Regions from separate parts of the Homo sapiens genome. Here all the other regions are linked to region 1. The links come from fine-mapping of genetic effects on gene expression. A gene starts in region 1. Each other region holds a variant in brackets. All regions are shown on one strand. Distances are from middle to middle.

Region 1 (8,103 bases):
TTCACACCATCAATAATACTGTAGAAAAATGCCAGTGAAACTCGCATTTATCATGTTTGTATTCTGCCTTTTTTTTTTTTTTTGATATGGAGACTTGCTCTATCACCCAGGCTGGAGTGCAGTGGCGCGATCGTGGCTCACTGCAACCTCCACTTCCCAGGTTCAAGCGAGTCTCCTGCCTCAGCTTCCTGAGTAGTTGGGACACGCACCACCACACCCAGCTAATTTTTGTAATTTTAGTAGAGACGCGGTTTTGCCATGTTGGCCAGGCTGGTCTCAAACTCCTGACCTCAAGTGATCCGCCCACCTTGGCCTCCCAAAGTGCTGGGATTTACAGGCATGAGCCACCGTGCCCAACTCTGCCTTACTATTTTTTTCCTTCAAATTAAATGAGGAAATGGTACCTTACTGTTATAACTTGTATTGCTTTGCATATTAATGGTATATGACATATTTTTTCAACTGCTGTTACTATTTTGCTTGAGTATGTCCTTTGTCCATTTTTCAGGATATTTGTGGGTTTAAAACAATTCAATTCCTAAACGCACATTAGAATAAGGATGTCAACCTTCTGTGTTGTCGTATTTTAAAATACTTTCTAAAACTGAAAGCTTTGAAGAGGACTGAATTCCAGTAGTATGAAATGGTTAAAAAGTGGATAATCATGTAGTCTATGCCTGAAGGTGATATTTCTCACATCAATAGATCCTGCAAACAATAAACTAATATTCCAAAGAAATACACTGGAGAGTCCTTAGTAAGGTCATTGGCAATACAGTCTGGGAAGATCTAGGTTAACAGATGAACCTGTTAGGCAGGTTTAACCAATTCCCTTAGACTAGCGAAGTCTGAGTGCTGAGAACTCCAGAGAATAAATTGTCAAACTCCCTCTCTAGCTTGGATACAGATAATTTTATTTTCTTTTAAGATGCAGGCAGGTCACATTCAACAGACAAGATGAATACGTTGCTTGTTTTTTCTTTTCTTTTTCCTTCATTTTTTAAAAATTTTTTTCTTTTTTTTTTGAGAGAGGGTGTTGCTCTGTCTGCAATCATAGCTCACTACAGCCTCGACCTCCCAGGCTCAAGCGATCCTCCCACCTCAGCCTCACAAGTAGCTGGAACTACAGGCATGCGCCACCATGCCCAGCTAATTTTTAAATTTTTAGTAGAGACAAAGCCTCACTGTGTTGGCCAGTTGAACTCCTGGGCTCAAGCGATGCTCCTGCCTCGGCCTCCCAAAGTGCTGGGATTACGGGTACAAGCCACCACACTGGGCCTACTTCTTTATCAAAGAAGCCCTTCCTGAACAACACAGAAACCCCCCTAGAGGGTCCGTAATGAGAACCGAACAGAAAAACCCCCAACTCAGGTTTGCTGGGCAATCCTTCTTTTCCACAGAAGCTGGACCAGGTTCTGTTACCATTAAAAAAATACTGTATTCAATATTTTTAAAGACAAGAAGGGAAAGAGAACAGGTTCTTGCAAAGAGAGGTACAGCCTCGACTCCTTCCAAGTACACACGATCTCCCGTGTACTCGGGGCCCACACCCAGCCAGCCATCACGGGACCCAGACAGGGTCAGATGGGATGCTGCCGGGAAGGCAAGGCAAGGCAGGGCCCTATTCCATCTGCAGCATCTGAGCCTCGGTTTGGATGATGTGTTGCAAAGATTTTTTACTTGTACAGCTGAGAAGCAGGTCACTTAGTTTCTCAAGGACCAGCCGGCCTCAGTGCACAACTGAAGGTCAAGCGACTCTTACAGCCCTGTAGCCTTGCCGTGTGACACCCAGGTGACCTGTCTCTGCCAAAGTGCTGACTGTGCTCGCAGTCCTTGGAATGCACTTAAGTTTTTAATAGAAAGGACCTATAATTAGGGCAGTATCTGATGCTCTGATCTGGGAGAAGGAGAAAAGGAAAACAGCCCCTAGGATTCCTGCCCTCAGTTCAGCACAGCACAGGACGCCATGAGATTTTCAAAACCTGACATTCCCCAGGGAAGGGCCGACCCTCTTCAGCGAGGCTTACTTGAAAGACGCTTGAATCGCAAAGTAAGGTCTTGGCTTTTCCCCACTCTCAGAGAGACTCCAGGAGGACTCCGAGACTCCCAGACCAGCCCTCCGCCCCTGCCCTCAATCTCAGAATTGCTGAACTCTGGAAAGTCAAGATCATCTAGAACAGAAATACAAGGGGCTGGGGCCTGAGGCTAGAAACGACCAAAGACAGAATAAAAAGCACAGTCCTTTGTAAACTGTACAGCAGAGACACGGCAGCTCGGGAGTGGCGGAGTGCACCAAGCTCACTGTGGCTTGGGGTGGGGTGGTGGCGTGGGACTGGCAGTTGCCGGCTCTCCAGCCCGGGACAGTTACCTAACTCGTCTCCCAGCCTGTTTCCCCATGGGCAGCAGAGACAGCCAGGACACAGTGAAGCAGGTCACAAGGGGCTCAGAGTGTCCTCCCCAGCCCCGTCCAAGGAAACAGGGCCCGGCTCTGGGGGCGAACTCTGTCCCCACTACCCCAAGGGGCTGTGCCCTGGGGCAGGCACAGCGGGGCTCCTTCGGGAGGGAGCGAATCTCGGGCAAGGCTGGCCTCCTCCCGCTGGCCCAGGACAGCCTCGGGGGCGCCAGCAGGCACTGCTTGCTGTGGGTAGGGGGTGTCCAACCTAGACGCGGCCTCTGGGAGGGCAAGACCGGGAGGGGTCGGCCTGTGTCGGGGGCTCCTGGAAAAGCAGCGCCACCGCCACCCACCTGACGACATGGAAGGCCCAAAGCAGGCGATCTGTGCGAGGCCCGCGCGCGGCGCGGACGATGCTGAGGTACAAGTAGAGCGCAATGGCCACGGTCCAGAAGAAGGAGCTGGTGTTGGCGAAGGTGGACAGCGCGCCCTGCAGCACGCAGTCCCACGACGGGCCCGCGAAGTTCTGCAGCACTCCGTAGAAGTAGGAGGCGGCCGAGAGCAGGTCGGCCAGCGACAGGAAGAGCAGCAGGCGCCGTGCCCGGCTGCGCAGGTCGGGCCACAGGGCGTGCGTGGCCACCAGCAGGCCCGAGCCGAGCGCGGAGAGTGCGCACGACAGCAGCACCACGGCGCGCTCCGACGGCACCAGCTCGGTGGGCGGCGGGGACGGCTGCATGGCGTGGGGGGCCAGGAGCCGGAGCGCCGCGAGGACAGAAGCCGGGCCGCGCGTGCGGCCACGCCGCCGCCGTCTGGGCACCGAGGCGCCCTAGGCTCGCGTCCAGGCGCCCGCCCCGCCCGCGTCCGGCCGCTCCCCCGCCCATCTGGGCCCCGGGCCCTGAACCCCGTCCACGCCCTGCGCCCCGCCCCTATATCCCGGGCCCTGAGCCCCGCCCACGCGCCGCGCCCCACCCCGGTACCCCGGCCTTTAAGCCCCGCCTACACTCCCAGCCCCGTCCCGCCGTCCCAGGCCCTGAGCCCCGCCCACAATCCGAGCCCCGGACACACGTCCCCCGGCCCACATGCCCTTCCCGCCCACACGCCCCCCCCCCGCCCGTGTGCCCCCGCGTTGAGACTGGGACTTAGAGCTCCGCCCACGCGCCCCGATCCCCTGTCCACAGGGCCCAGAGACCTGGGCCTAGAGCCTAACCCACGCGCCCCGCTCCGCCCACGCACCCCGCCACACCCCTGTGTTCCGGGCCCTGACCCTGGCTCAGGTGCCCTTCCTCGTCCCGTTGCCCCGGGCCCTGAGCCCCGCCCCCGCCACGCCCCTGAGGCTTCCAAGCTCCACCCGGTGCCCGAGGCTCCTGAGCCCCGCCCACGCCCTCACACCACGCCCCTAAGCCCCTAGGTCCCTAAGCCCTACCTCAGGGCACCCCCAGGTCCCAGCACCTGTCCCTCCACGCTCCTCCAGGCCCACCCCTGCTCTTGCCAGGTGTCTGGGACATCCAGTCCTGTGAGAGGAAGGGCTGGCATTTTTAGGGCTAATATTACTTTCCCTCTTTTCAGCCAGCTTCTGTGTGTGTTGTGAGTGGAAGGGCGTGAGGATCAGAGGCATTCTTTCCACTAGCAACAGAAACAGCTCTCGGGTATGATCCTCATTCCTTCAGCCGTGATCCCGACGTGTTCACAAGTTGGTGGTGACTTGGGGAAGCCGGCGTTTCCACCTTTTCTTAAAATAAGCATGCTATTTTTTAAAAACCATAGCTAACTAGGTGTGATTTTTAAAAAATGAAATGCTAGGCAGGGCATGGCTTTTTCTTTAAAAATTTCAAACTTTGTAATTAAGATGTAATTCACATACCATAAAATTGGCCCTCTTAACCGAACAATTCAGTAGTATGTTCACAAGTTTGTGCAACCATCATTATTATGTAATTCTACAACATTGTCATTACTCCCAAAAAGAAATCCTTATCCCTCAGCTGTTAGCCCTCAGTTCTCCCCGACAGCCCTGGCAACCACTCTTCTACCGTGGATTTGCTTATTCTGCACATTTCCTGTAAATAGACTCATATGCTCTGTGGCCTTTATGTCTGACTTTTTTAACTTAGCACGTTTCCAAGGTTCATCGTAGCATATGCAGTGCTTCATTCCTTTTACTGCCCCGTAATATTCCATTATATGGATATACCACCTTTTTTTTTTTTTTCTAGAGACGGAGTCTCCCTCTGTCGCCCAGGCTGGAGAGCCGTGGCATGATCTCGGCTCACTGCAACCTCTGCCTCCCGGCTTCAAGCAGTTCTCCTGCCTCAGCCTCCCGAGTAGCTGGGACTACAGGCACACGCCGCCACGCCCGGCTAATTTCTTTTCTATTTTAGTAGAGGTGGGGTTTCACCGTGTTGCCCAGGCTGGTCTTGAACTCCTGAGCTCAGGCAATCTGCCTGCCTTGGCCTCCCAAAGTGCTAGGATTACAGGCATGAGCTACCGCGCTCGGCAGGATATACCACATTTTACTTAGCTATTATTCATCAGCCGATGGACATTTGGGTTGTTAACACTTTTTAACTATTAAGAATAATACCACTATGAAAATTTGCATACAAGTTTTTTTGTGGGTGTATGTTTTCAATTCTCCTATGTGTATACCTAGGAATGGAGTTGCTGGGCCATACGCAACTTTATATTTCACCTTGTGAGGAACTGCCAAGGTGTTTTCCAAAGTGACTGTACATATCATTTTACATTTGCACTAGCAATGAAGGTCGCAATTTCTCTACATTCTTCCAAAACTTTTTTTTGAGACAAGGTCTTGTCGCCGAGGCTGGAGTGCAGGTACAACCACAGCTCACTGCAGTCTCAAATTCCTAGGCTTAAGAATTCTCCCACCTTGGCCTCCCCAGTAGTTAGGACTTCAGGTGCATGTCACCATGCCCCACTAATTTTTTTTTTTTTTTTTTTTTGAGACTGAGTCTCGCTCTTGTTGCCCAGGTTGGAGTGCAGTGGCGTGATCTTGGCTCACTGCAACCTCTGCCTCCCGGGTTCAAGCGATTTTCCTGTCTCAGCCTCCTGAGTAGCTGGGATTACAGGTGTGCACCACCACAACCTGCTAATTTTTGTATTTTTAGTAGAGACAGGGTTTCACTGTATTGGCCAGGCTGGTCTTGAACTCCTGACCTCAGGTGATCTGCCCGCCTCAACCTCCCAAAGTGCTGGGATTACAGGTGTGAGCCACCTTGCCTGGGCCCCACTAATTTTTTTTTTGGAGATGGGGTCTCACTGTATTGCCCAGGCTGGTCTCAAACTCCTGCCTTGGCCTCCCAAAGTGCTGGGATTACAGGCGTGAGGCCACCTCACCCAGCCTTCCTACATTTTGTATTATCTTTGTGATAATAGCCATCCTAGTGGGTGTGAAGTTGTTCCTCATTGTGGTTTTGATTTGCGTTTCCCTGATGAATAATGCCCTCAAACATCTTTCCATGTGTGTATTGGACATTTGCATATCCTCTTTGGAGAAATGTCTGTTCAACTTTCTTTCTTTCTTTCTCTCTCTCTCTTTCTCTCTCTGTCTCTCTTTCTTTCTTCTGTTCCTTTTTTTTTTTTTTTTTTTTTTTTGAGACTGAGTCTCGCACTGTCACCCTGGCTGGAATGCAATGGCGCGATCTTGGCTCACTGTGACTTCTGCCTCTTGGGTTCAAGCGATTCTCCTGTCTCAGCCTCCCAAGTAGCTGGGATTATAGGCGCCAGCCACCACGCCCAGCTAATTTTTGTCTTTTTAGTAGAGATGGGGTTTCACCATGTTGATCAGGCTGGTCACAAACTCCTGACTTAGAGTGATCCACCCGCCTCGGCCTCTCAAAGTGCTAGGATTACAGGCGTCAGTCACCACACCTGGTCAATTTTCTTTCTTATTTTTAAATTGGTTTGTCTTTTTGTTGTTGAGTTGCAAGAGTTCTTTATATATTCTAGCTATTACACCCTTATCAGCTATATGATTTGCAAATATTTTCTCCCATTTTGTGGTTTGTCTTTTCACTTTCTTGATAGCATGTTTCAAAGGAAAAAAGTGTTTTTTGAGTATGTCCAATTTGTCCATTTTTTTCTTTGGTTGTTTGTGCTTTTGGTGTCACATCTAAGAAACCATCACCTATGCCAAACTCATGAAGGTTTGCATCTATGTTTTGTTTCTTTCCAATACCTCACTGTTATGGTTACTGTAGCTTTGTAGTGAGTTTTGAAATTGGGAAGGGAGTCCTTCAAAATTGTTTTTTCTTTTTTGGGGAGAGTCTTACTATCTTGCCCAGACTGGAGTGCAGTGGTTTGATCTTGGCCCACTGCAACCTTTGCTTCCCAGGTTCGAGCGATTCTCCTGCCTCAGCCTTCCGAGTAGCTGGGACTACAGGCGCCCGCTACCATGCCTGGCTAATTTTTGTATTTTTAGTGGAGGCAGGGTTTCACTATGTTGCCCAGGCTGTTTTCGAACTCCTGATCTCAAGTGGTCTGCCCGCCTCGACCTCCCAAAGTGCTGGGATTACAGGCATGAACCACCGCACCCTACCCTTCAACATTGTTTTTCTTTTCCAATATTTTGGCTATCTGACGCCCCTTGCGATTCCCTATCAATTTGAGGATCCGTTTTTCTATTTCTGCAAGAGGAATGGAAAAGATTGATAGAGATTGCTTTGATTCTGTAGATAAAAGTGGAGAATAATGCTATATTAATAATATGAGATCTCCTTATCCATGGACCAAGGATGTCTTTCCATTTATTTAGCTCTTCTTTAACTTCCTTTTAGTGATGTTTTGTAGTTTTTGGTGTACATTAGGTTTGATCTTGCATTTGATTCATAGAAAGCAAAGATTATCTTTGTATATCTAACTTTAAAAAAATTATTTTGGCCGGGCGCAGTGGCCTGTAATCCCAGCTCTTTGGGAGGCTAAGATGGGAGAAACACTTGAGAGGCCAGGAGTTTAAGACCAGCCTAGACGACTTAGTGAGACTCCATCTCATACAAAAATAAAATAAAGGCTGGGCATGGTGGCTCACACCTGTAATCCCAGCACTTTGGGAGGCCAAGGCAGGCAGATCACCTGAGGTCAGGAGTTCCAAGACCAGCCTGACCAAAATGGTGAAACCCCACCTCAACTAAAAATACAAAATTAGCCAGGCATGGATTTAGGGCGTAATCCCAGCTACTTTGGAGGCTGAGGCAGAAGAATCACTTGAACCCGGCAGGCGGAGGTTGCAGTGAGCCGAGATCACACCATTGTACTCCAGCCTGGGCAATAAGAGTGAAACTCTGTCTCAAAAAAAAAAATAAATAAAAATAAAAATAAATTGTTTTACGAAATATGCATATTGAAAAGTGCCTAAAATACAAATGTACAACTTATTAAATAATTATAAACAGCCATCCAGAGCAAGAAATATAACATTACCAGCGTACCACAAACCTCCCCAAACACCCCTTCCCCCTCAGTCATTTCCTTGCTGTTTTTCTGTTTTGTTTTTTGCGAAGGCTGGTCTTTAACTCCTGGGCTCAAAGGATCCTCTGGCCTCAGCCTCCTAAGTAGCTGGGACTACAGACAGGAGCCACCACTGGAGGCTCTTGCTTTTACCCATCCATGTTTGCATCCCTGAACAAAACAGTGTAGTTTGCCTGTCATTGAGCTTTATGTAAGTGGAATCATACTCTCCGTTCCCTTTTGTGTTT
Region 2 (8,103 bases), 34 kb after region 1:
CTCCCCTGGCCACGTGCCTCATGAAGTCCTCGAGGTCATCCCTTCCTTTGCCACTGATTGGTTTGGGGCTGAGCACAAGACCCAATTCTGGCCAATGAGGTGTGTGAGAAAGTCAGCATGGGCTTTGGGAAAGGCTTCCTCACTCATGAGGAGACCCCGGGAGGAGCCCAATGGGAGAGGAACTGGCAGGCAATGAAGCCAGTGGGGTGAGGGCAGCAGAGCAGAGATACGGAGGGAACCAAAGTCCTTGACATTACTGAGCGCCTGGATGTCACCTGTCCTGAAGCTGCCCTACCTCTGGACTACTTGGTTTATTACTTTTTTTATTTTTGAGACAGTGCATTGCTCTTTTGCCTAGGTTGGAGTGCAGTGGCACAATCCCAGCTCACTGCAGCCTCCACCTCCTGGGGTCAAGCGATTCTCCCACCTCAGCCTCCTGAGTAGCTGGGACCACAGGTGCATGCCACCACACCTGGCTAGTTTTTTTGTTTTGGTTTGGTTTGGTTTGTTTGTAGAGATACCCCACATCTGCCTGTTTGCCCAGGCTGGTCTCGAACTCCTGGGCTCAAGGGATCCTCCTGCTTCAGCCTCCCAAAGTGTTAGGATTATGGGCGTGATCCACTGCACCTAGCCTTAAAAAATGTTTACTGTTCTGATTAAGTCATTTTAAGTAAGGTTTTCTCTTACTTGCAGCTGAAGGAATCCTAACTGGTATATTCCATAGTCTAAGCAACTGTGTCATCATCAATTACCTTGGAATTTTTTTTGTAAAAAAGCAAATCACTTAACAAACAGCATCTCTGTCACAAAGGGTTCGGTAACAGCAAAAACTGCTCCCCTGTCCTGTCCCTGCAAAGAATGCCATGCAACGGGGGTTTCAGACAAGCATTGTATCTGCTCTTACCCCTCCCCTTCCCAGTAAAATGTTTGGGTGATGTTCCATGGCAGGGAAACAGATAGAAGAAGGCACAGCCTGGTTCAAGGAAGAGGGCAAATGCGTTTTCAACGATGCCAAACTGGGCAAAACTAGTCCTAGTTTCAGGTGGGGTGTCCTGGGCTTGTTCTTCACTGAAACAGACCTGGGCTCCTTTTCTTCCTGTCCTCAGGCCAGAAATCCCCCATCAATTTGTCTAAGGGAACCATCACTGGCCAAGATACAGAGGGGGCAAGAACACAGGAGACCGAGTCTTCTTACCAGGAGAGGTGATTTCAAAACTCCAAACAATCTCCAAGTAAAATCCAGCCCCAGTAAGGGCCTGTAGCATAAATTTGAATTTTGGAGGGAGTCCAGCCCTCCACGTGTTTCTCTGATAGGAACTGGGAGAGCTTCCCCCATACAGCCAAGTCCTGTCGCGGAGCAGTCCCCCGACCACCCTGTCTCTGCCCCAACCCCTCCTTATGGAGGCAAACAGGCCACCAAACTACAGCCTCCCACGGTGTTCCATCAGCAGTCACAGGAAAACCCTCATGGCTTCTGGGCTTTGCCTCCCCAATATGCCACCCAGCACCCAGGCTCCATAAGAAATCTGCTTTCAGAATCAAAGACCTGAAAATTAGAAATGCTTTTCTAATGCCGAGGCCAAATTTCCTCCACACAAAACACCACAAATCCCTCTCCAAACAATTCGCGATTGCCCCCCAATCTCAATGGCCTTTTTCTCGGGTTGTAAATGTTCCCTAAAGTTGTCAGTGAATTAAACCAGAAAAAAAAAGAAAGAAAGAAAAAAAAAAAAGAAAGAAAAGGGTGGGTTACCTGCTCTGTGGGCCAAAGAAGGACCTTGGATTGATCGGATGTCAGCTCTGGTCCTGCAGCTTCCCCAGCCTGGCTCCACCTGTCTGACCTGTTGGGCTCGCTGCCGCCTCTGGGCCTGGCACAGCCGCAGGGAGCGGGGCTCGCTGCCAGCACCCAGGCCCCTCCATAGGTGTGCATTCACCTGCCAAGAGGTGCAGGCGCACAAGTGCCCTCCCCTCTCTGCTCCCACCATGTGACCTGCCCCCCAGCCGGACAGGCACTGGAGCATCTCCCTCGGTGTCACTGGAATTTCAAACCTGAAGCTGGCAGAGAGAAAGAAGAAAGGGAAGAAGAAGAGGGGAGGGGGACAGAGGAAAAATCCTGGCCCCCACAACTAACCAACAGTCCTTCCGTGATGTCGTGGAGGTCAGGCCAGGTGGGGCCAGCAGCCCCGTCACGGTGATCGTCAGGGTCAAATTCCAGGGCTGCTCTTTCCCCCTGGGTGGCTATTTTGGGAAAGCAGCTTTTCTCCAGCAGTGGACAGACTAGCTACTATGGACGCTGGAATCCAGAAGACTCAGAGCTCTGCCAGGGCCCAGCACAGGTAAAGGCACGGAGGACAGCCCTGGGAGCAAAGAGACAGTTTGCCCTCAGGTGCCCCTGAACTCCGCTCTGAGCACACACAATCCCACGGGTCCCTCCTGTCCCTACCCTTCAATAAGGATCACCCAGCACTTGGGGTCCTATCTGGCTTGGAAGAGGACGTGGGGCTTGAGGTATTACCCAAGGTGTTGAGGGGGTACAGCTGGAGGGGCAGGTGGCATCAGGTCTAGCGGCAAGGCCACTATTTTCCTGCCCTCCAGGACTGAGAGCCCTTAGCAGCCAGATTTGGCTTCTCTTCCCTTTCACTCCCTGGCCCCTGATGCCCGTCAAGCTCAAGTCGATACTGAACAACTGAGTACACAGCACAGCCTGGGTGTGAGGTCAGACTCTGTGCCTGGGATTGGGGCGGGTCAGGCATCTGACTCTGAGTTTCAACCACTGCTCAAGTTCAATCATGTGCTTCTAAGCTGCCAATCAAGCCAAACCTCTGGGAGTCACTGAAGAATAGAAACCGCAAGGCCAAGAGGAGGGTTGTGGTGCCCTGTGGTCTTGATAACTTGGGTTTTGAATGCAGGGTGGATGTTAAGATATAAAGCCCTTCCTAGGAAACCAGAAGACATCCTCCTAAGGAGGCAACAAAGCAGGGCAAGGCCCAGGAGAGGACCTGTGATGGAATTCAGACAGAGCCCAACCTCCCAGGGTACAGCCTTGTTCACGGGGCGCGGGAGGAGAAGGCTAACTGCTGCTGAGTGTGGCCAGGCAGGTCTTCAGCTACTGACATCAGGGCTGTGTCCACCCCTCAGAGCAGCACTGAGCTTGAAAGTGAAGCCCTGGCCGAGCGCGGTCGCTCACGCCTGTAATCCCAGCACTTTGGGAGGCCGAGGAGGGCAGATCACCTGAGGTGAGGAGTTCAAGACTGGCCTGACCAACATGGAGAAACCCCGTCTCTACTTAAAAAAAAAAAAAAAAAAAAAAACAAAAAAGTGAGGCTCTCTCTCAAAGCCAGCCCTTGCTCTGCTGCCCCAAGAGGGTCCTGCAAACACACGGGCCTTGTCCAAGGGGCCTGATGTGCAGGAGAGGGGCAGGGCCCAGGGCAGTGACCCCGAAGGGCTCCATCCTCGGACCTGACTCCTCCTTGCTCATAAACAACCAGGCCTTTGCCTTCCTCCCACACCAGTCCCCGGGTCAAAGGCCTTAAGAAAATCCCCGGTGCACTAGCCAACTCAGACCGCCCTGGCCCTTAGATCATCCGCTAGTCACTGGGCTGAGACCCAAAGGAGAGGGAAATATTTGGCGATTTCAGGGAACTGAACAGCAAAGGTGTTCACAATCAGACCACCAGCAGGAGTGCGGCACGCCCCTTAAACACTCTAAGGAAGTATTTACCAAGGCTGCTAAAAAAGAAGTTGAGGATTTCTGCCTCTGATTTAG[T/C]AGAAAATAATCTTTGAAATTTACATACAAAGTCCCATGATAAGTCATTTGGGATCCCCCAGAGGAGGAAGGCTGCTTGCGGTTAGACTGGGTGAGTCAACGAAACAAACAAATGGGCCCGATGAGGTCAGCTTTTTGGAAAAGGAACAAAGAAAACTGCACCCAAATGAGAGGCAGCTTACAATGGTGAAGCAGTGGTCACAGAAAATCCATTTCCAAAGCCTCTAATCCAGCAGTTTGGGGGATGATTTTGTCACCCAGGGGACATTTGGCAATATCTAAAGACATTTTTGGGGCCGGGTGTGGTGGCTCATGCCTGTAATCCCAGCACTTTGGGAGGCCGAGGCGGGCAGATCACTTGAGGTCAGGAGTTCGAGACCAGCCTGGCCAACATGACAAGACCCTATCTCCACTAAAAATGCAAAACTTAACTGGGCATGGTGGCACACACCTGTAATCCCAACTACTTGGGAGGCTGAAGCAGGAGAATCACTTGAGACTGGGAGGTGGAGGTTGCAGTGAGCCAAGATCGCATCACTGCACTCCAGCCTGGGTGACAGAGCAAGACTCTGTCTCAAAAAAAAAAAGAAGAAAAAAACCCAGACGTTTTTGATTATCACAATTGAAGGGTAGGGAGTGCTCCTGGCTTCTAGTGGGTAGAAGCCAGGAATGCCGCTAAACATCCTACAGTGCACAGGGCAGCCCCCACCACAAAAAATCATCTGGCCCCAAATGTCTGTAGCACTGCCACTGAAAAACTGTTCTCATCCACCGAGAACTCTCTCTCTCTTCCTTGCAAGTCCTGGGCAAAAGGTTGTTTTTAGTAGCCCAGAGGGCCATGGTGGTGACAGCTCCTCCCTGGGTGATGCCAGGCTTCAGGGGGTCAGCATCTTTGGAGGGTCCTCTAGGCATAGACCCCAGCTTGGGCAAGCCACTTGGCTGCCCCTGCATGGGTGACCCTGCCTGACTGCCCCTGGCTGCAACAGCCCCTTGCCGAGGCTTCTAGACCCTCAGAACCTCCCCCCTGCTGCTCTGGCTCTCAAGGTCCCACAGTAAAGCCACAGGAATGAGAAGGAGCGATGACAGTTCTCATCATCCCGTCATCGTCACAGCAGACTGGTAGGTGCTTTACAGGTGACAATGAGCTTTCACATTCGTTGTCTCACCTGAATACATAAAAGCCTCACCCACTGTTAAAACAATCTGAGTTCTTGACCTGCCAGACCAGTGGAACATGCAGAGGCCACCTGTCCCCGATGAGGGCCTGGGGGAGAGGGAGCCGTGCATTCATCTGGGGAGACCCCAGAGTCCAGAGCTGGGCAGAGGTGACAGCAGCCTGTCTAGGGGACCTGGGGGAAGCCAGGGTTCTGGCTGCTCCACGGCAGGCCCTGAGGTGGAGGGTCTAGACCCTGACCAGGCACCAGTCCTGCTGAAATGAGGCTCCGGAAATAGACGCACATCACACTCCCTGGAGTATTTTCTGGGCGGCCACAGAGTTCAGCAAATAGTCAACAGAAAGCATCTCCAAGAAGTGGGTGAACCGGAAGGACACATGCCCAAGGCTGATATGGGAGGTGTTTGGGGACTTAGGGAAGAAGCAGGACAGAAATAGGCCCAGCTCATTAACTGCATCTACATATGAATTGCTTGACTTTTTTTTTTTTTTTTTTTCAGAGACAGGGTCTGGCTTTGTCACCCGCTGAGCTGCAGCACAGTGGCATGATCATAGCTCACCAGAGCCTCAACCTCCCCGGCTCCAGCCATCCATCTTACCCCCTCAGCTCCTCTAGTAGCTGGGACCACAGGTGTGCACCACCATACCACGCCTAGCTAATCTTTTTTTTTTTTTTTTTTGAGACGGAGTCTCACCCTGTCCTTCAGGCTGGAGTGCCGTGGTGTGATCTCGGCTCACTGCAACCTCTGCCTCCCGGATTCAAGCAATTCTCCTGCCTCAGCCTCCCAAGTAGCTGGGATTACAGGTGTGCGCCACCACACCTGGCTAAATTTTTGTATTTTTAGTAGAGACGGGGTTTCACTATGTTGACCAGGCTAGTCTCGAACTCCTAACCTCAGGTGATCTGCCCATCTCGGCCTCCCAGAGTGCTGGGATTACAGACGTCAGCCACTGCACCTGGCAACCCGGCTAATGTTTAAAACAATTCTTTTAGAGACAGGGTCTTACTATGTTGCTCAAGCTGGTCTCAAACCTCTGGGCTCAAGTGTTTCTCCAGCCTCAGCCTCCCAAAGTGCTGGGATTACAAGCATGAGCCACCGCGTCTGGCCCGTTTGAGTTTTTATGAGTATTATTACTTATTTTATAAATCTAAAAGAACATTAGGAAAAAATAAGAATAAGGGCAGAATATCTCGTATCCACACCCCCTTTCACGGGATACAGAGCCTTGCCTGCTTGGGAAACTCCTGAACTGCAGTCTGGGTTGCAACTCCATGCGTCATTCATCCTGGTTACCAGACCCTGGAAAACCGACGCCAAGTGAGACTCTGAATAAGTCAAAGGACAGAGACCACAGGAGACAGCTCCCGGCGCTAAGCAAACGCCTGTCTCCAGCAAACCTCAGGAAATGAGAGAAACAAGTCCACGCTCCAGCTGGGAGCCCCCTGCAGCAGGGAGGCTGCCCATCTTACACCCCTAGACCTCCTGCCTGCACTCCCCCTGAGTAGGTGGCCCCTGCCACTGCCGTTCCCCTCAGACCACGGCCTTTCCTCGGGAGAGAGGGTGGATGTGGGGAAACACCAGCTCTTCAATGTACCCTGGGAAGGCGGATCCTGGAAGGCCCTTTTGAAGTTTGAGCAAAGAATGGGAGGATGCGACCCACCAGGCAGGCAGGAGCCGCTGACTCCAATGCGAAAATAGAAACTGCTTCCCTGTAGCTTGGATGCTATTGCAGCTGGCACACAGAGGCTGTTAGGATCAAGACGAGGTTCTGGATCCAGTGCCTGCCTCTGAGGCTGCTCACAAGGAGGAAAGTCACTGCAAAAATGCTTGGCCCAGGCCGGGCGTGGTGGCTCATGCCTGTCATCCCAGCACTTTGGGAGGCCGAGGCAGGCGGAATCACCTGAGGTCAGCAGTTCAAGATCAGCCTGGCCAACATGGTGAAACTGGTGTCTCCAAAAATACAAAAATTAGCCAGGCGTGGTGGCACACACCTGTAATCTCAGCTACTCGGTAGGCTGAGGCAGGAGAATCGCATGAACCCCAGAGGTGGAAGTTGCAGTGAGCCGAGATGGCACCACTGCACTCCAGCCTGGGTGACAGAGTGAGACTGTCTCAAAAAAAAAAAAAAAGAAAAAGAAAAAGAAAAAAGAAAGAAAGGCCAGGCGCAGTGGCTCACCCTGTAATCCCAGCACTTTGGGAGGACAAGGCAGGCAGATCACGAGGTTAGGAGTTCAAGACCAGCCTGACCAGCCTGACCAACATGGTGAAACCCCATCTCTACTAAAAATACAAAAATTAGCTGGGCGTGTGACGCACGCCTGTAATCCCAGCTATTCAGGAGGCTGAGGCAGGAGAATCACTTGAACCTGGGAGGCAGAAGTTGCAGTGAGCCAAGATCGCGCTACTGCACTCCAGCCTGGGTGACAGAAGGAGACTCTGTCTCAAAAAAAAAAAAAAAAAAAAAATGCTTGGCTCACCTGGCAGCTTTAAGCTTGGAGCCTCCTGGCCACCTGACCTGCTCTCAATGCACACAAGGCACAGCCTCCTGGAATGGTGCCTGCACGCCCACTTTATCACCCACTTTCCAACCTGCAGAACTGCCGTCTAATTTTCCATTTACAACTGTTCCTCCACCTCAGGCCTCAGCATTGTTTCTGCAGCTTCAACTCCTTACTCCTCTGTGCTGTGAGAGCTCTGTGCTCCCACCTCTGGCTCTGTCACCCACAGCCAGTGTGAATAACTCACAAGGTGTCACCAAGACCTTCCACCTCCCCAGGCTCTCTGTTGTGCAAAAGGGATTCACACACCTAGAGACAGGGCTGGAGCTGGGTGGCCATGGGACTGACCTAGAGGGACAGCTCATATGCTCCACCATTCTTGAGGGCATCTACTTCCCAGCTAACATGTAAAGCAAGAAATTCAGACCAGGCACGGTGGCTCACACCTGTAATCCTAATGCTTTGGGAAGCTGAGGTGGGAGGATCTCTTGAGCCCAGGAGTTTGAGACCAGCTTGGGCAACACAGGGAGAGGCCATCTCTAAAAAAATATTTTAAAATCATCCAGGTGTGCACCTGTAGTCCCAGTTACTCAAGAGGCTGAGGAGGGAGGATCGCTTGAACCCAGGATTTTGAGGCTGCAGTAGGCTATGATCACACCACTG
Region 3 (8,103 bases), 29 kb before region 1:
TAATAAATAAATAAAAGATGGAGTCCACTTCTCGGCCTTGTGGCCAAGATCAAGTATAATAAACAATGGAGCCATAGTTGGAACTCAGTCTCTCTCTTTCCAGAGCCTCGTCGTTCACAAACCTGGTCGTCGGGACCCACCTGCTTCTCGTTTCCTTGGAGAATCAAAGCCATCCCCTCAGCTTGTCTACTGTAAGATGACTTGATAAACACACGGCTGCCTTCATCAATATCACTTCACTATGCCCAGGAGATTCTTGTCCTGCAAGACAACTGCTGCAAATAACTTTATGGTTCACTCCAGGAACTTCCTGGAAAGATTCATCAGCTCTTCAATAGAAAGCATCCAATGATAGCTTAGACTCAAAACTCATTCAACTAGCCACCAGCAAATCCTCATCATGCTGTGCTCACATGTGTGAAAGGATTACATCACGACTTGCTAATCCCAAGAAGGCTGAAAGACTCATCTGAAACTATATGTTTTGATCTTCAAAAATATGGACTAGGCGTGGTGGTTCACGCCTGTAATCCCAGCATTTTGGGAGGCAGAGGCAGGTGGATCACAAGGTCAGGAGTTCAAGACCAGCCTGGCCAACATGGCTAAACCCTGTCTCTACTAAAAATACAAAAATTAAATTAGCCAGGTGTGGTGGCGCATGCCTGTACTCCCAGCTGCTAGGGAGGCTGAGGCAGGAGAATTGCTTGAACCTGGGAGTTGGAGATCGCGATGAGCCGAGATCGTGCCACTGTACTCCAGCCTGGGTGACAGAGCAAGACTCCGTCTCAAAAAAAAAAAAAAAAAAAAAGAATAAATACCCCAATGTTGTTCTCTCCTACTCTGAGACCCTGCTAGTGAAACTGCCACTGCAAAATTATGACTGAGACGGTGAAAGAGATCTGACCTAACCAACTCCATCTTCCTTCTGACCTCCAAGCTGTTCTTGTTCATTCCTGGGCATGGGCTGAACTAATCTGGGGAGGAACTTAGTTTATAGTTTAGAAAAAAGAAGATAGCAGCCCTTTTCTCAAGGTAGATCCCCTTCTTGTTAGCCAAAAGATTAGAAAGTATGGTTTAGCAGTCATGCAGCTGAGGATTCAAGATTCTGACCCTCCCCAAATTGCTCCTAGGCATAACATCACTATTGTAAAACCTAAGGTCAGTGCCTGAGATATTTTGCAGGCCCTGCACTTGATGGATCAGCTGGCACCAAATCGATAAACTGGCCCATCTCATCTTGTGGCCCTCACCCAGGAACTGACTCAGCACAAGAGGACAGCTTCAACTCCCTATGATTTAATCTCTGACCCAGCCAATCAGCACTCCCGACTCACTGGCCCCTCCCCACCCACCAAATTATCTTTAAAAACTCGATCCCCAAATGCTCTGGGAGACCGATTGGAATAATAATAAAACTCTGGTCTCCCACACAGCTGGCTCTGTGTGAATCGCTCTTTCTCTGTTGCAATTCCCCTGTCTTGATAAATCGGCTCTGTCTAGGCAGCGGGCAAGGTGAACCCACTGGGCGGTTACACTAGGGCCCTGCAATAGGAGTGCCTTTCACTTCCCTGGTAAGCACCAGCTTTGTCCTGTGTACAGGCAGTGCCAACTCCATGGGCCTGTGACCCGTGCAGTTTCCAGGATCCTGCCCGCAGAAGGGCAACTTCATATCTGGCCTGGCACAGGGTAAGCACTCAGGAAACGCCAGCTATTAGCTAGTGACAACGTCCTGACCCCACCACATCTGGCAAATCCTTTTCCTCGTGGAGCCTGGATTCTGGACTCTCCTCCCACAGGTGAGTAATTGTTACTAGACACGCATGCTTCATTCAGAAAGTGGTCCACCTTGCCCCCAAAGCTTCCCCTGCTGGAGCTTTTCCTATGTGCAAGGCCTAAGCCTCAGCTGCATGCTGGGCTGACCCTTGGATACAGCCTGACTCTGTGCCAGGAGCCTGGCAGGCTCTGGGGAAAATGCCTGGTAGAGTGGTCCCTGGAACGTATGGTTTCTGCAGAGACTGTGGCATCCCAAAGACCCGCTTAGAAGTCTATGGGAGCAGAAGGAGGTGACCCTGTGGGGTGTGAGCTGCATATAGGCAGAAGCAGGAGGTCAGGCAAGAGGGAACGGTGTGGAGTGGTGTGGAGCAGTGTGGAACACGGAGCCTGGATTCTGAATGCATGCTGCATTTGCTGGGGTGAGGAAGGCGAAGAGAACTCCGGAGAAGAGGTCAGGGAAGAGGTGAAAAAAGGTCACTGAGGGGAGACAGATGGAAAGGGAAAGGCGCATGGCAGTTGATGAGTGGAGGGTCACAGGAGAGGGCCTCAAGGGGATGCTTCCATTTTCTCCCAGGTAAGCACATAGCATCAAGTTTAGAGATGCAAAGACAAAGGCAGGAGAGAATAGTTAACAAACCTCAGGGTGGTCGCGTCGAAGTAGCAGGACCAGGCCTGCTATTTTAATATTACTTAAGTTTGTGTATGTTGTACCTTAATAACCAAATTCAAGATGCCACTTCTAGGGGCTATTCAATGCAGTTTGTGTTGTTGTTTTGTTTGTTTTTTGAGACTTGCTCTGTCACCCAGGCTGGAGTGCAGTGACGTGATCTCGGCTCACTTCGATCTCTGCCTCCCGGGTTCAAGCCATTCTCCTCAATGCAGTTTTAACTGCACAAAATCCAGACAGTGGAAGAAAGTTTAGGAGCTTTTGGCAGCAAAATTCCCAAGGCGGAGCAGTTTCAAGAAAACTATGACCGGAGGTGGGGCTGCATGGCCAGTGCAGATCTGCAAGTCACGCAGCAAGGCAGCCAGCTCCAGTAGATGCGTTTGGAAGGCTGCTCCCTTCCAAGAAGAGACCCTGTGTCCCAGCAGTCCCTGACCACCAGGAGGCCTGCAGATGCAGCTGCGGCGGGTCACCCTGTGTGTGATACAACCATGCATGAAGGGTGAAGGGGTCAGCAGCTCAGCCCTGGAGCATCTCTCTTAATCAAGTTCAGCCCCAAGTCATGGGTGCTTGGAACTTGGACCTGTTGACCCTCATCGGCTCTATCTAGGCAGCAGGCAAGGTGAACCCACTGGGCGGTTACACTAGGGTCCTGCTATAGGAGTGCCTTTCATTCCCCTGGTAAGCACCAACTTTGTGGACAAAGCCCAGGAATCTGTATTCTAAAACCCTCTCCCTATCTCTCCACCCCCATGATCTTTATTAGGTCAACTCAGGGGAAGCTGGCTATGCCAACAGGGCGGCTGCCTCTTTAGCTAATTTGCCAAGAGAGAAGGGCAGAGCTGTCTTCTCCAGGTCTCAGCCTCATGGTAGGCTCTGGAACCACAGCAACACAGGCCAATGCGAGCCACCTGTCCTGCAACCGCCCCCTCCCCACCCTGCACAACACATCAGGAGGCAATCACTTTACCAAACACATAGGAGAAAAATAATTTATTTATTTAATTTAAAACAGCAAGACTTCAGCTTCCACCCAGTCAGGGCTTGCATTACAATTTTGCAGGTGCAAAAACTCACACTTTTGATGCCACAACTAGAAGTTTGTAAAAACTATTTTTCTTGTCGTGGACACGTGAAGAGTTCTGTTTGCACCCTCAGCCTGGGCCAAATAATCATCTTTATTTAAAAACAAAACAGAACAAACAAACCAAAAAACCCTCAAAAGCACAAAGAGGCAGAAAGCGGCTGGTAAACCTGGTTAAAAGACCAAAGTTCAGAAAGTGCATGGGAGAGGGACGCTGAGCTGCGGACACCGTTCCGGCTGCAGTACGTGTTATGGCTGAGGTTACACTTGGGTGACTCAGGGATGCAGGCAGATGAACATTAACCACACTAACAGAGGAGAAAGAAGCCCACTGGGGCTGTGCAAAGTGTCCAAGGAGCACAGCCCCTTTTGCCCTGATCAGATGTAACAGCCCCTCGCT[T/TGAGCCCAGGAGTTC]GAGATCTGACTGGGCAACATGGCAAAACCTTGTCTCTACAAAAAGTCAAAATTTAGCCAGGCCTGTGGTCCCAGCTTCTCAGGGAGCTGAGGTGGGAGGATCGCTTGAGCCTGGGAGGTGGAGGCTGCAGTGAGCCATGATTGCATCACTGCACTCCAGACTGGGTATGATGCTCCAGACAGCAAAACCCTGCCTCACAAAAATAAATAAACTAAAAAGAAGTAACAGCCCCTCCTGGACTTGTTTTATTTTTTGAGATGGAGTCTTGCTCTGTCACCCAGGCTGGAGTGCAGTGGTGCAGTCTCGGCTCACTGCAACCTCTGCCTTCTGGGTTCAAGCAATTCTCCTGCCTCAGCCTCCTGAGTAGCTGGCACTACAGGCACACGAAACCACATCCAACTATTTTTTTTTTTTTTGTATATTTAGTAGAAACAGGGTTTCACCATGTTGGCCAGGCTGGTCTCAAACTCCTGACCTCAGGTGATCTGCCCACCTTGGTCTCCCAAAGTGCTGGGATTACAGGCGTGAGCCACTGCGCCTGGCCCCCTCCTGGACTTTTAGGATGTGACTTCCTTCCCATCCAGCCTTTCTGTCTGAGCACTACCCACCCAGCTAGACTGACTTGGTAACTGGATCTAAGAAGGAGGCGATATTGCTGTTTTCGAGGTCGATGGGCCAGGGGCCTGGGCTAAGGCACTTAGACAAGCCCCTGCCCTGCCCACCTGGTCACCACCATTCACAGTGATCACTCATCTGTGGCAAGAGGTGGGCAGCGGAGGAAGCTGACTAGAGATACCTGATGTATAACTTTTTGGAGGTTTTTACAAAAGCAGATACAGTGGCCAGTGGCATCAAAGAAATGGAATGAGAACTTGAGCCCAGGCACCCGGAGCAGGTATTTTCTGAGCCCTCAGCTCCCTCTACAGGCCTTTCCTGACCACAGCCAGTCCATCTGGGGAGCCATGTCTCAGCTCTGGCTTGGGTACAGCAGGGAGGGCTCCAGAGGCCCCTGCTGAGCAGGGTTGATCCTAACACTATTCCTCTGTGGCCTATATTGTCTTTTCTCTTTTACCTGTTAATCATGTTCTCTTTTGCAGCAAGCAAATTCCTGAATTTTCGCTCCCTTCTAGAAGCTCAAGTGAGGGTCTTTACCAGAGACATACCCAGAGATTTGCTGTAACGTCTTCAGGGGAATCCAGAATTCACTTACAGAGGCTATTTCTGCCAAGTGGCTTTCCCTGGAGCAGCCCAGAGCTCTCTTTCAATCCTAAGGGGATGTCTGTCTCACTAATTTCCATCAAGAAATCTGTTTTCTTGGACAGGCACAGTGGCTCATGCCTGCAATCGAAGCATTTTGGGAGGCTGAGGTGGGTGGATCACCTGAGGTCAGGAGTTCGAGACCAGCCTGGCCAACATGGTGAAAACCCGTCTCTACTGAAAATACAAAAAATTAGCCGAGCATGGTGGCGCATGCCTGTAATCCCAGCAGCTTGGGATTGGGAAGCAGGAGAATCGCTTGAACCTGGGAGGCGGTGGTTGCAGTGAGTCAAAATTGCACCACTGCACTCCAGCCTGGGCAATAGAGTGAGACTCCATCTCAAAAAAAAAAAAAAAAAAAAAGAAAGCGACAAAAAGAAATCCATTTTCACAGGAAACCAAAAATGAGCATTTTGGACTCAGTCTGCTAAATGATTATTCCTTTCCTGATACAGATTTTGGTTTTGAGAGTCAAACAGGGATCGGCAGCACAGCGTGACTTCGGTTTTGATTCAGAACCATTTTACTAGGCTCAGAAAATCATGCTTTGTCGAGTTCTGATGGATTCCAAGGGAAATCACCTATCAGGTAAAGCTGTACTTTCTCTCACCAAGACCCTGGAGGTAGCATTTCCACTTCCATTCTTTGCCGATGGCTCCTGTGACTGAACACAGAAGCTGTTTTCTGAAATAAGACGAAAGCGTTTGTGGAAGACCCACAGAATAAAAATAGAGATACAGGTGCTTACTTTCAATTCTTTTCTTTTAAATGTAAATAATCGCTCCATGCTCCATGCCGCCACTTACCTCAGCTGAATACAAAACAGCTGAATCCTTTTGAATCCTTTGTTTTTTTCTTTTTTTGAGACAGGGTCCTGCTGTTGCCCAGGCTGGAGTGGCAGTGGTGCCATCCCAGTTCAATGAAGCCTCAAATCCCTGGGCTCAAGGGATCCTCCCGTCTCAGCCTCCTGAGTAGTAGGGACTACAGGCACGCACCACCACATCAGCTCCGGGCGACAGAATGAGGCTCCTTTTTTAAAAAAAAAAAAAAAAAAAAACTGACTCTGAAGCTTAAAACCTTCACCTTTAGGAAGAAATCGTATTTGTTTGTTTGAGACCGAGTTTCACTCTTGTTGCCCAGGCTGGAGTGCAATGGTGTGGTCTTGGCTCACCGCAACCTCCGCCTCCCAGGTTCAAGAGATTCTCCTGCCTCAGCCTCCCAAAGACCTGGGATTACAGACGTGCATCACCATGCCTGGCTAATTTTTGTATTTTTAGTAGAGACAGGGTTTCACCATGTTGGCCAGGCTGGTCTTGAACTCCTGACCTCAGGTGATCTGCCTGCCTTGGCCTCCCAAAGTGCTAGGGTTACAGGTGTGAGCCACTGTGCCCGGCCTGAGGAATCGTATTTGGATTACTCATCTCTCCGGCCACTTTACTTACAAAAAACTAAACTAAGAAGTAAATAAGCCAGAACCCCTCCCTACTCATCCCCTTTGGTCTCCCCAAGAAGAGGAGGATTCTAAGAAAGGAGCTGGAGAGACAGTGGGGTCTTCGGGGGTTCCCTGAGACGCCTCTTCCTGCCCTTGTTCCAGCTTTGGAATTGGAAGGAGGGAACCTGTGTCTGAAGTGATTGACAGGTGGGGACAGGAGTGTGGATTCTGGCCTGTGCTTGACACTCAAACCCAAGCTACGGCAAGGGTTAGCAGCCCATGGAGGGAGAGGCCAGGAGGCCCGGGGAGACTGCTGTCCCTGAGCAGCTGCGCCGGGCTGTGCTTGCCCCTGGTGGTCACCATGCAACCTCAGGGGAACCTTCAACCTGGTGAATGGCAACTGGTTCCTCTGTTGAGCAAAGTCTCCAAGGAAAGCCGGGTTCTCCAGAGAATCTTAACACCCTGACCAGCCGGGAATCTGCTCCATGATGTGTGGATGGGGACACATCTCTGAGGGCCCCTGACAGCTTATTTAATCACACAGAGGATAGGTGCACAGATGTGGGTCCCTCAGATTGTAAACAGTGCTGTGTGGTCCTCAGGACATCAAGGTCCACTGGGTGGGGGCACTGTGGCCACAGCTGTGGGCCACCGGCTTCCCGAATCTCACTGCTACCCTTATGCAGATGAACGCCCACCCGTGGGCCAGGACGCTGGTACCGGTGGAACTTGCTGCCTGAGGATCTAGGAGGTAGAAGAAGCTGAGTTGGCAGCTGCTCTCCCAATGGAGCCGAGAGCATCAATAGCGGGGGCTTCTGGTGCAGCAGACATGCACTTCTGCCCCTGCAGCAGGGACTCACAGAAGTGCCTACCCCCAGGAAGGCAGCACCTATGCACAGAACTAGAAAGGACAAAAGCTCAGGTGCTTGGAAGTTCCCCTGGGGTCCCTTGGGATTCCTGAGATTCTCCTGGCTTGGAAGGCGCGGGAGCCTTGGGAGTGCCAGCCGGGCTCTTGGTGGGAGGCTGAGAAGAGCAGCAGCAGCAACAGAGAGAGAAGAGCCGAGTTCGGACGGCGCGGGTGCAGAGGACGAACATGATGCAGTTGGCACCTCCCTGAAACGTGTTCCCGATACCCTGTCGGGAGAAAAGGAGCTGTGAGCATGGGGCTGGAGTTGGTCTCAGAAACACACGCGCTGTTGCAATTAAGAGAAACGGCTAGGCTGGGTGCGGTGGCTCACACCTGTAATCCCAGCCCTTTGGGAGGCTGAGGTGGGCGGATCACTTGAGGTCAGGAGTTGAAGATCAGCCTGGCCAACAAGGTGAAACCCTGTCTCTACTGAAAATACAAAAATTAGCTGGGCATGGTGGTGGGCGCCTGTAGTCCCAGCGACACGGAGGCTGAGGCAGGAGAATCGCTTGAACCCAGGAGGCGGAAGTTGCAGTGAGCCGAGATCCCACCACTGCACTCCAACCTGGGTGACAAAGCCAGACT
Region 4 (8,103 bases), 43 kb before region 1:
ATTTATGTGAAAGATACAGAATAGATAAATCCATAGAGAATGCAGATTGATGGTCTGGGGAAAGGCTCCTATGTTTTTGAACCTGCCCAGTTGTGGGTGCAATCTTGCACCAGGCAGCCCAACCCTGACCTAAAGTAAATTCCCAGAAGTCTTTCCTGGGTTTTGAATTTGCAGTAACAGCTGTGGGCATTCTAGCAGCAGTTCGATGATCATGTATGGTACTGCAAACAGGACAAAAAAAAAAAAAAATGCAGATTGGTGGCTGCCAGGGGCTGGGGGCAGGGGGAATGAGCAGTGACAGCTAATAGGCACCTTTTCCTTTTGGGGTGAAGAAATAGATGAAGTTATTCATTAATTGTGCAACCCTGTGAATGCTGCCAAATTGTTCACTTTCAAATTGTTGATTTCATGTTATGTAAATTTCACCCCAATAAAAAAAAGAAATCAATACTAGCCTGGGTAACACCGCAAGACTCTGTCTCAAAAAAATTGTTTTAAAGACAACTACTTTGCTGGGACATCATTTATCTACAACTTACAGAACTGTAAGCTCAAAGGCAACGCAAGGGCAGGGCCCTGCTGATTCGGGAAGAGTATGCTTGAAGCAATGCAATTTTCCACGAAAGTGCACATTTTTCTCCACAGTGGTTTGAAATCAGCCATGGTGAAAATGAGACAGGAATAATACAGGGTGGTCGCAGGAGAATAGAAAATTCCAGGCAGCAGTTTTGCATGACTAGCAAAAGGAAACTGTTGAAATAGCTGCAGAAGTAGGGGCCCTGAAAAACAGGATGTGGGCCAAGCTGGCTAAGGCCGACTGGAATCAACATAGCGCTGGATTTGACCTAGGTTTCACGTAGGACCTCATTATGTGCTCATTAACATACTAAACCCTGCGGGGTTCGGTGGCTCATGCCTGTAATCCCAGCACTTTGGGAGGTTGAGGTGGGCAGATCACCCGAGGTCAGGAGTTCAAGACCGGCCTGGCCAAAATGGTGAAACCCCATCTCTGCTAATAATACAAAAAAATTAGCAGGGCATGGTGGCACATGCCTGTAATCCCAGCTACTCGGGAGGCTGAGGCAGAAGAATCACTTGAACCCAGGAGGTGGAGGTTGCAGTGAGCCGAGATTGCACCATTGCACTCCAGCCTGGGCAACAAGAGTGAAACTCCATATCAAAACAAAGAAACAAACAAACAACACATACTAAACCCGGCCAGGCACGGTGGCTCACGCCTGTAATCCCAGCACTTTGGGAGGCCGAGGCGGGCGGATCACGAGGTCAGGAGATCGAGACCATCCTGGCTAACACGGTGAAACCCCGTCTCTACTAAAAATACAAAAAATTAGCCGGGCAAGGTGGCGGGCGCCTGTAGTCCCAGCTACGCGGGAGGCTGAGGCAGGAGCATGGCGTGAACCTGGGAGGCGGAGATTGCAGTGAGCCGAGATAGCGCCACTGCACTCCAGCCTGGGCGACAGCGAGACTCCGTCTCAAAAAAAAAAAAATAATAATAATACTAAACCCACATCCACCAGTGCCATGACAGTTCCTGGGACATCCATATTTGGCATAAAAACAGGTAACACCACAATTTTGAGAAACCCTCACCTTTTTCCAGGAATCTTCATAAATATCCCACCCCTTGGTTAAAGAAACCCATAAAGGTGGAAGCTCCCAACCCTGCTGGGTGCAACTCTCTCTTGAGTAGGCCCGAACTCTCCTTTCTTGAGTGTGTACCTTTTGCTTTGCAATAAATCTCTGTACTTTCACTATTTTCTGACTTGTCCTTGAATTCCTTCTGGCAAAGGTGTCAAAAGCCTGGACACTGCCTGCGGTTAAGGTCCCACTGGCGTTTGGGGACCTCCTCTAGCCCACTGGCATCAGAAACATTACACAAATCAGCTCACACTATAAATCAGCCCCGGGCCCACCATCCCAGCCTGTTGAACATGTTCCAGCACATCACGGACTCTGGTACTACATCAGGCACCAGATCCAGATAACATATCTTGCATCTCACCCAGGATCTTGAGAAACACGCTTTGGAAGCCAGCAGCCCTATGGGGGCAGCCACACCATGTGAGCATCGGCCACACCCTTGGGTGGCCCTGGAACCAGACCATCCTCCAGCCCCCGTTGGTCTGGAAACCAGCAACAGCCCCATCACCTGGGAGCTGGTTAGAAAAATGCAAAATCCACTTCACTCCAGACCTGCTGAATCAGAACCTGCATTTTGGCCACATCCCTGGTGGTTCAAGCTCACATTTAAGTTCGAGAAGCTCTGCTCTAGGCTTTTCCTGAATGTGGCGCATCAGTGATTCCTCCCGGCCCCAAGGCCTCTGTGCCCAACCAGGACTGACTTACCCCGGCCTTGCACAGCACCCGCAGGACTCTCCTTGGTGTTGATGTGGGCACTGGCTGACTGCCACAGCACTCTATGCCTGCTCTCTGACTCTGTCACGCGTCTGCTTTTCCTCCTGGGATAATGTGGTGCTGGTGTTGATGAAAAGAGTCAAACTGTAAAATATTTTTAGAGATTTATTCTGAGCCAAGTATGAGTGACTACGGCCTATGACACAGCCCTCAGGGGGTTCTGAGAACATGTGCCCAAGGGTACAGCTTGCTTTTCTACATTTTAAGGAGGCATGAGACATCAATCAAACACATTTAAGAAATACATTGTTTTGGTCTAGAAAGGCGGGACGATTCAAAGGTGGGGGAGGGTTCTTCCAGGCTATAGGTAAATTTAGACACTTTCTGGTTGATAATTGTTTGAATTTGTCTAAAGACCTGGGATTAAACAGAAAGGAATGTCTGTAAGATAAGAGGTTGTGGAGACCAAAGTTTTACCATGCAGATGAAGCTTTTAGCTAGCAGGCTTCAGAGAGAATAAGTTGCAAAATGTTTTTTATCAGCCTTAAAGTCTGTGTCACTGTTGGTGCTGGAGAGGTTTGATGAGGCATGTTCGAACCCCACTTCCATTATGGCCTGAAACAGTCTCTCAGGTTAAGTTTTAAGAGCCCTGACTGAGGAGGAAGTTCATTCAGATGGTTGTGTCGGGAGGGCGGCTTAGAATTTTACCTTTGGTTACACTGGGGTGGCAGTGGTGCAGGACGGGGCAGGTTTGCTCCCCTCCAGGCCAAGACAAGTGCTGGCTGCAGAAAGGTTTTATCTGCTGGTATTTGAAAAGCTTTCCCTGATGCAACGGGCCCAGGCAAATCCTGGGAGTTCTGCTGTCTGCCAGGGAGAAAAGCTGAAGGGAGGAAGGGTCTGATCCCATCTCTGGTATCATGGTCCTAAGAAATTGCTGGAAATGCTTTCCTCATTAACAGGTACTGCCCAACAAGAATAAGTCTTCCCTCCCAGGTCCTCTGTTGACTGCTGAGGATGGGCCTGGGGCCCTGAGAACAAAGGAAGGGAACTAGTTAATATGAAGTGGGACAGGGAGTTCAATCTTCATGATCACTTGGATAATGAAGAAAGGCTAACTAGCAGGGATAATGACAGCTGGACTTTCTCAAGGGCTCTTTCTCCAGCTTAGTCATTGCCTGAAGTGTAACTGCCCGATGGGTTCTTTCTGCCCGCTACACAGACAAAGTCAATTGACTGAAACCATGGCATTG[C/A]AGTAAAGGAAGAGTTTAATTGCTGCGAGGCCAGCCACGCCCTAAGGGAGAGGGAGTTACCACTCAAATTAATCTCCCGGAAAGCTCAGAGGCTGGGATTTTCTTTTTCTCTCTCTTTTTTTTTTTTTTTTATTGAGATGAAGTCTCACTTTGTTGCCCAGGCTGGAGTGTAGTGGCACAATCTCAGCTCACTACAACCTCTGCCTCCCAGGTTCAAGTGATTCTCCTACCTCAGCCTCCTGAGCAGCTAGGATTACAGGCATGCACCACCACGCCTGGCTAAGTTTTGTATTTTTTTAGTACAGATAGTGTTTCACCAAGTTGGTCAGGTTGGTCTTGAACTCCTGATCTCAAGCAAGCCACCCACCTTGGCCTCCCAAAGTGCTGGGATTACAGGCGTCAGCCACTGCACCTGGCTGAGGTTAGGGATTTTCAAAGATAGTTTGGTGGGCAGTGGACTAGGGAATGGGTGCTATTGATTGGTTCTGGAATGCCATCATAAGGGTATGGAAAACGGTACTGGTGCTTGACAGAGCAGGAGCATCACCATCTTGAGCAAACACCACCATCCTAAGTTCCACTTGATTAAAAAACCCCTAAATCCAGCCCCAAAACATCAGCCTAATGGCTAATGTCAGCATAACCAGAAACATTCCAACCCTAAGATAAATCCCTCTCTGACCAGAAACATGCCAACCCCAAGACAGCCTCCCCTGTGACCAGAGACATTCCAACCCCACAATAAACTTTCCTTCACATAGAAACATTCCGAATCTATGATAAGTCCCCTCTTTCAAAACCCTTAAATATCCTTAGGTCTGTAAGAGAGAAGAGCTGTCTCACCTAACTCGGCCAGAAGCCACTTTCAGGTTTGTTTTCTCTAAAATAAACCTGTCCTTAACTGTCAAGCCACATTTTGTGTTTCTTACTTCTTTCTTTTTTTTTTTTTTGAGACAGAGCCTTGCTCTGTCGCCCAGGCTGGAGTGCAGTGGTGCAATCTTGGCTCACTGCAAGCTCCGCCTCCCGGGTTCTCGCCATTCTCCTGCCTCAGCCTCCCAAGTAGCTGGGACTACAGGCACCCACCACCATGCCTGGCTAATTTTTTGTATTTTTAGTAGAGATGGGGTTTCACCGTGTTAGCCAGGATGGTCTCAATCTCCTGACCTTGTGATCTTCCCGCCTCAGCCTCCCAAAGTGCTGGAATTACAGGCGTGAGCCACCACACCTGGCCTCTTTCTTCTTTCTTTAAGTCTTACATTTGGTGCCAAAACCCGGGATGGGTGTTGGCGGCAGAGGCTCTCTTGCAACCCAAGAGGCAGTGGGCAGCAGCGGCCCTCATCCTGAATTAACTCCTGGATCCTGAGAGCCTCTGGACAGCCGCCCTGTCTTTTCTCTTGTTTCACTTTTCAAGCGATTTATGTGAGGAGGACAATTAATCTGAAGGGGACTGTGAGACTCGGGCCAGGGCTACTCTCCGGTGGGCTCTCAAAACCCTCAGGTCTCAGGAATCCACCTCCAACTGCCCGCAACAGGTATTTCGCTCTCTAGCACTTGCTCCCTCTTCCTTCCTCTTCTCTCTCTCTCTCTTCCTCGTGTGCCTCCAGTCCAGGAGGCCCTTTGCCAATTCCAACTGGAACATCCAACATTTGGCTTATGGGGGAACCTAAAGCCAAAGCATTTAGTTTTTTATTACAACACAGCCTGGCCCCAGTGCAAATGAGATAATGACAGTTGATGGCCTGAAAATGGCACCTTTGACTTTCAAATTCTCAGGGACCTTAACAACTTTACAACCAGGAATAGCAAAAGGCAAGAGATTCCCTGTATTCAGGCTTTCTTCTGTCTTAGATCCCGACCCTCCCTATGCCAAGCTTGCACCCTTCATGAAATCCCTCTTCTTAATGAAAATCCTCCCTGGGTTTTTCCTTCCTCTGGAACCCCTCCTCTGAAACCCCTTTTGACCCTGCAGATAAAACCCCTCCATATTCTCAACTCTCTGCATCCACTCCTCACCCACCCGAACCCTACACCCAGCTGGCCCCTCCTGCTCCCAAGCCTTTACCACCAAACCCCCTCCCTCCTCCTTCTCCACCTATTACCTGTTTGAAAACTACTCCAGCCCCTTGGGTGGCTGCAGTTTGCCAACCACCCCTGGTGGTGGTTCGGCATCTGGCCAACTGCCACTCTCCCCCACATTCTTCACCCGTTACCCACTCAAAAACTACTTCAACTGGGTGCAGTGGCTCACGCCTGTAATCCCAGCACTTTGGGAGGTCAAAGTGGGTGGATCACGAGGTCAGGAGATTGAGACCATCCTGGCTAACACGGTGAAATCCCGTCTCTACTAAAAATACAAAAAAATTAGCCAGGCGTGGTGGCGGGTGCCTGTAGTCCCAGCTACTCAGGAGGCTGAGGCAGGAGAATTGCCTCAACCCAGGAGGTGGAGGTTGCAGTGAGCCGAGATCGCGCCACTGCACTCCAGCCTGGGTGATAGAGCAAGACTCCGTCTCAAAAACAACAACAACAACAACAGCAAAAGCTACTTCAGCCAGTCAAGCCACTCCTGCCAGTCTTCCTCTCTGGAAAGTGGTTGGGATTAAAGGCATCCCTTGCGCTCATGTCTTTTTCTCCATCTCTGATTTGTCACAAATCAAACAGCATCTGGGATCTTTCTCTGAAAACTCCTCTCATTATCGCAAGAAATTCCTGCACATAATTCAATCCTTTAATTTAACTTGGCATGACATTCATATAATTCTAACCTCCACCCTCACTCCTGACGAAAAAGAGTACATCTGGTGTTCAGCTGAAACACACGCAGATAAACTCCATAATCAAGCCCCTATACAAAATCCAGTGGCTAATGATGCAGTTCCCCATAGAGACCCAAACTGAACTTACCAACAGGGAGATGCTGGCATCAGATAAAGAGACCACACAATTACCTGTCTCCTTGTGGGCATGGACAAAAATGCCCATAAGGCAGCTAATTATGAAAAACTTAGAGAAATTACACAAGAGCCCCAGGAAAATCCTACCCTTTTCTTATCACACCTCATTGAAGCTATGCTAAAACATACCAATTTGGACCCAGAATCTAGAGAAGGTCAAACTTTTCACCACCTTCAATTTATTTCCCAATCTGCCCCAGATATCTAGAAAAAATTATAAAAATTAGAGGAGGGTCCCCAGACATCTCAGTGGGATCTCCTAAATACAGCCTTCTGTGTCTTTAACAACAGAGACAAGGAACAAAAAATTCAAAAAGGCAAGCGTCTCTGTTTAAAATACCAGATGCTTGCCTCTGCTGTCCAAAAGTCAATTACACAAAAGTCTCCCAACAACCCAAAAGGAAACTCCCCCACCTCTCTGGGAGTCTGTTTCTGATGTGGCAACCCTGGACGCTGGCCAAAGGCTTGGCCTAACCCCTGGCTGCCCACCAAACTGTGCCCAACTTGCAGTCTTTGGGAACACTGGAAAATGGACTGCCCCCAATGGGAACACCTTCCCCGTTTGGGTGCCACTCATAATGAAGCCCCCTGACCATCACAGGAGGAAATCTCTTCACAGCTGGCACTGCCCATGGAGGAATGAGGGTCCCTGGGATTCTTCACCCCCACATCTAGTGAGTCCATGGAACCCAGGGTAATTTGGACAGTATCCATTAATATTACTTCCTTTCTTTTGGATACTGGGGCGAGCCTATCAGTATTAACTGAATATGAAGGCCCATTAGAACATTCATCCGTTTCTGTTGGCGTGAGGGGCATATAAGAAACAAAACACTGCCACTATACTGCTCATTTCAGGGAGTCACCCTCACTCTTTTTTGGTCATTCCTCACTGTCCCACTCCTTTATTAAGAAGGGACATTCTACACAAACTAGGGGGAATCATTCATTTATTGGCCCTAAACCAAAGCCACTCTTATATATTATTATGTCAAGAACAGACCCCTCCTCAGACATTCAACATCAAACAGACTTAAATCCCAAATTCCTCAGCCAAGTAAACCCCATAGTATGGAACACTGACTTCTGCATAATAGCTACCCACCATTCTCCAATCCAAATTTCACTGAAGAATCCTAAGCACTATATAGTGGTCCTACAATATCCCCTCAATCCTGAATGGATTACGGGGACTCAAGCCCATCATCTCTCAACTTTTGGCTGCCAATATTTTAATCCCCACCCATTCTTCCCACAATAATCCTATTCTCCCAATTAAAAAACAGGATGGCTCCTATAGACTGGATCAGGATTTGCGACAAATCAACTCCGCTTTTGTTCCTGTTTATCCTGTTGTCCCCAACCCCTATAACCTCCTGTCATGAATTCCTCCCAACACTAGCAACTTCTCTGTAATAAGCCTTAAAGATGCCTTTTTTACTATCCCTCTACATACCTCCTCTCAAAATCTTTTTGCTCTCACTTGGACTGATCCTGACACAGGCTGCTCCCAACAACTCACCTGA

Direction of the effects. Positions count from the first base shown, and alleles are read on the strand shown. Sizes are in standard deviations (SD) of each study's normalised expression. Not every link is listed here.
For the expression in monocytes after R848 of the gene that starts at base 3,203 in region 1, C is the high allele of the variant in region 2 and T is the other (moderate effect, 0.74 SD a copy in Quach 2016).
With allele T in place of TGAGCCCAGGAGTTC in region 3, the expression in atrial appendage of the gene that starts at base 3,203 in region 1 is higher (small effect, 0.21 SD a copy in GTEx).

What was found.
Region 2: its variant is fine-mapped to the expression of GPR157 in monocytes after R848 (Quach 2016, PIP 0.95). The same link has a PIP of 0.9 or more in monocytes, monocytes after LPS and monocytes after Pam3CSK4.
Region 3: its variant is fine-mapped to the expression of GPR157 in atrial appendage (GTEx, PIP 0.92).
Region 4: its variant is fine-mapped to the expression of GPR157 in blood mononuclear cells (TOPMed, PIP 0.98).

The regions. Positions count from the first base shown.
Region 1 is chr1:9,125,900-9,134,002 of GRCh38, forward strand. GPR157 (G protein-coupled receptor 157) reads right to left here and starts at 3,203. Exons shown (of 4, transcript NM_024980.5): 1 at 2,746-3,203. The coding sequence starts at 3,128. RefSeq lists silencers at 3,060-3,409, 3,470-3,789 and enhancers at 4,491-4,560, 4,581-4,700, 4,991-5,080.
Region 2 is chr1:9,160,254-9,168,356 of GRCh38, forward strand. The region is part of intron 1 of MIR34AHG (MIR34A host gene); the gene reads right to left. Among named protein-coding and RNA genes, the nearest start is that of MIR34A, 13 kb to the left of the region's middle. RefSeq lists silencers at 2,452-2,521, 2,672-2,741, 4,512-4,561 and an enhancer at 3,672-4,001. The variant T/C (reference allele first, on the strand shown) is at 3,767.
Region 3 is chr1:9,096,890-9,104,992 of GRCh38, forward strand. It overlaps GPR157 (G protein-coupled receptor 157), which reads right to left. Exons shown (of 4, transcript NM_024980.5): 4 at 3,416-7,745. The coding sequence ends at 7,530. Among named protein-coding and RNA genes, the nearest start is that of GPR157, 28 kb to the right of the region's middle. RefSeq lists an enhancer at 7,210-8,103. The variant T/TGAGCCCAGGAGTTC (reference allele first, on the strand shown) is at 3,922.
Region 4 is chr1:9,082,647-9,090,749 of GRCh38, forward strand. It overlaps a transcript of SLC2A5 not described here and LOC124900441. Among named protein-coding and RNA genes, the nearest start is that of SLC2A5, 17 kb to the left of the region's middle. The variant C/A (reference allele first, on the strand shown) is at 3,627.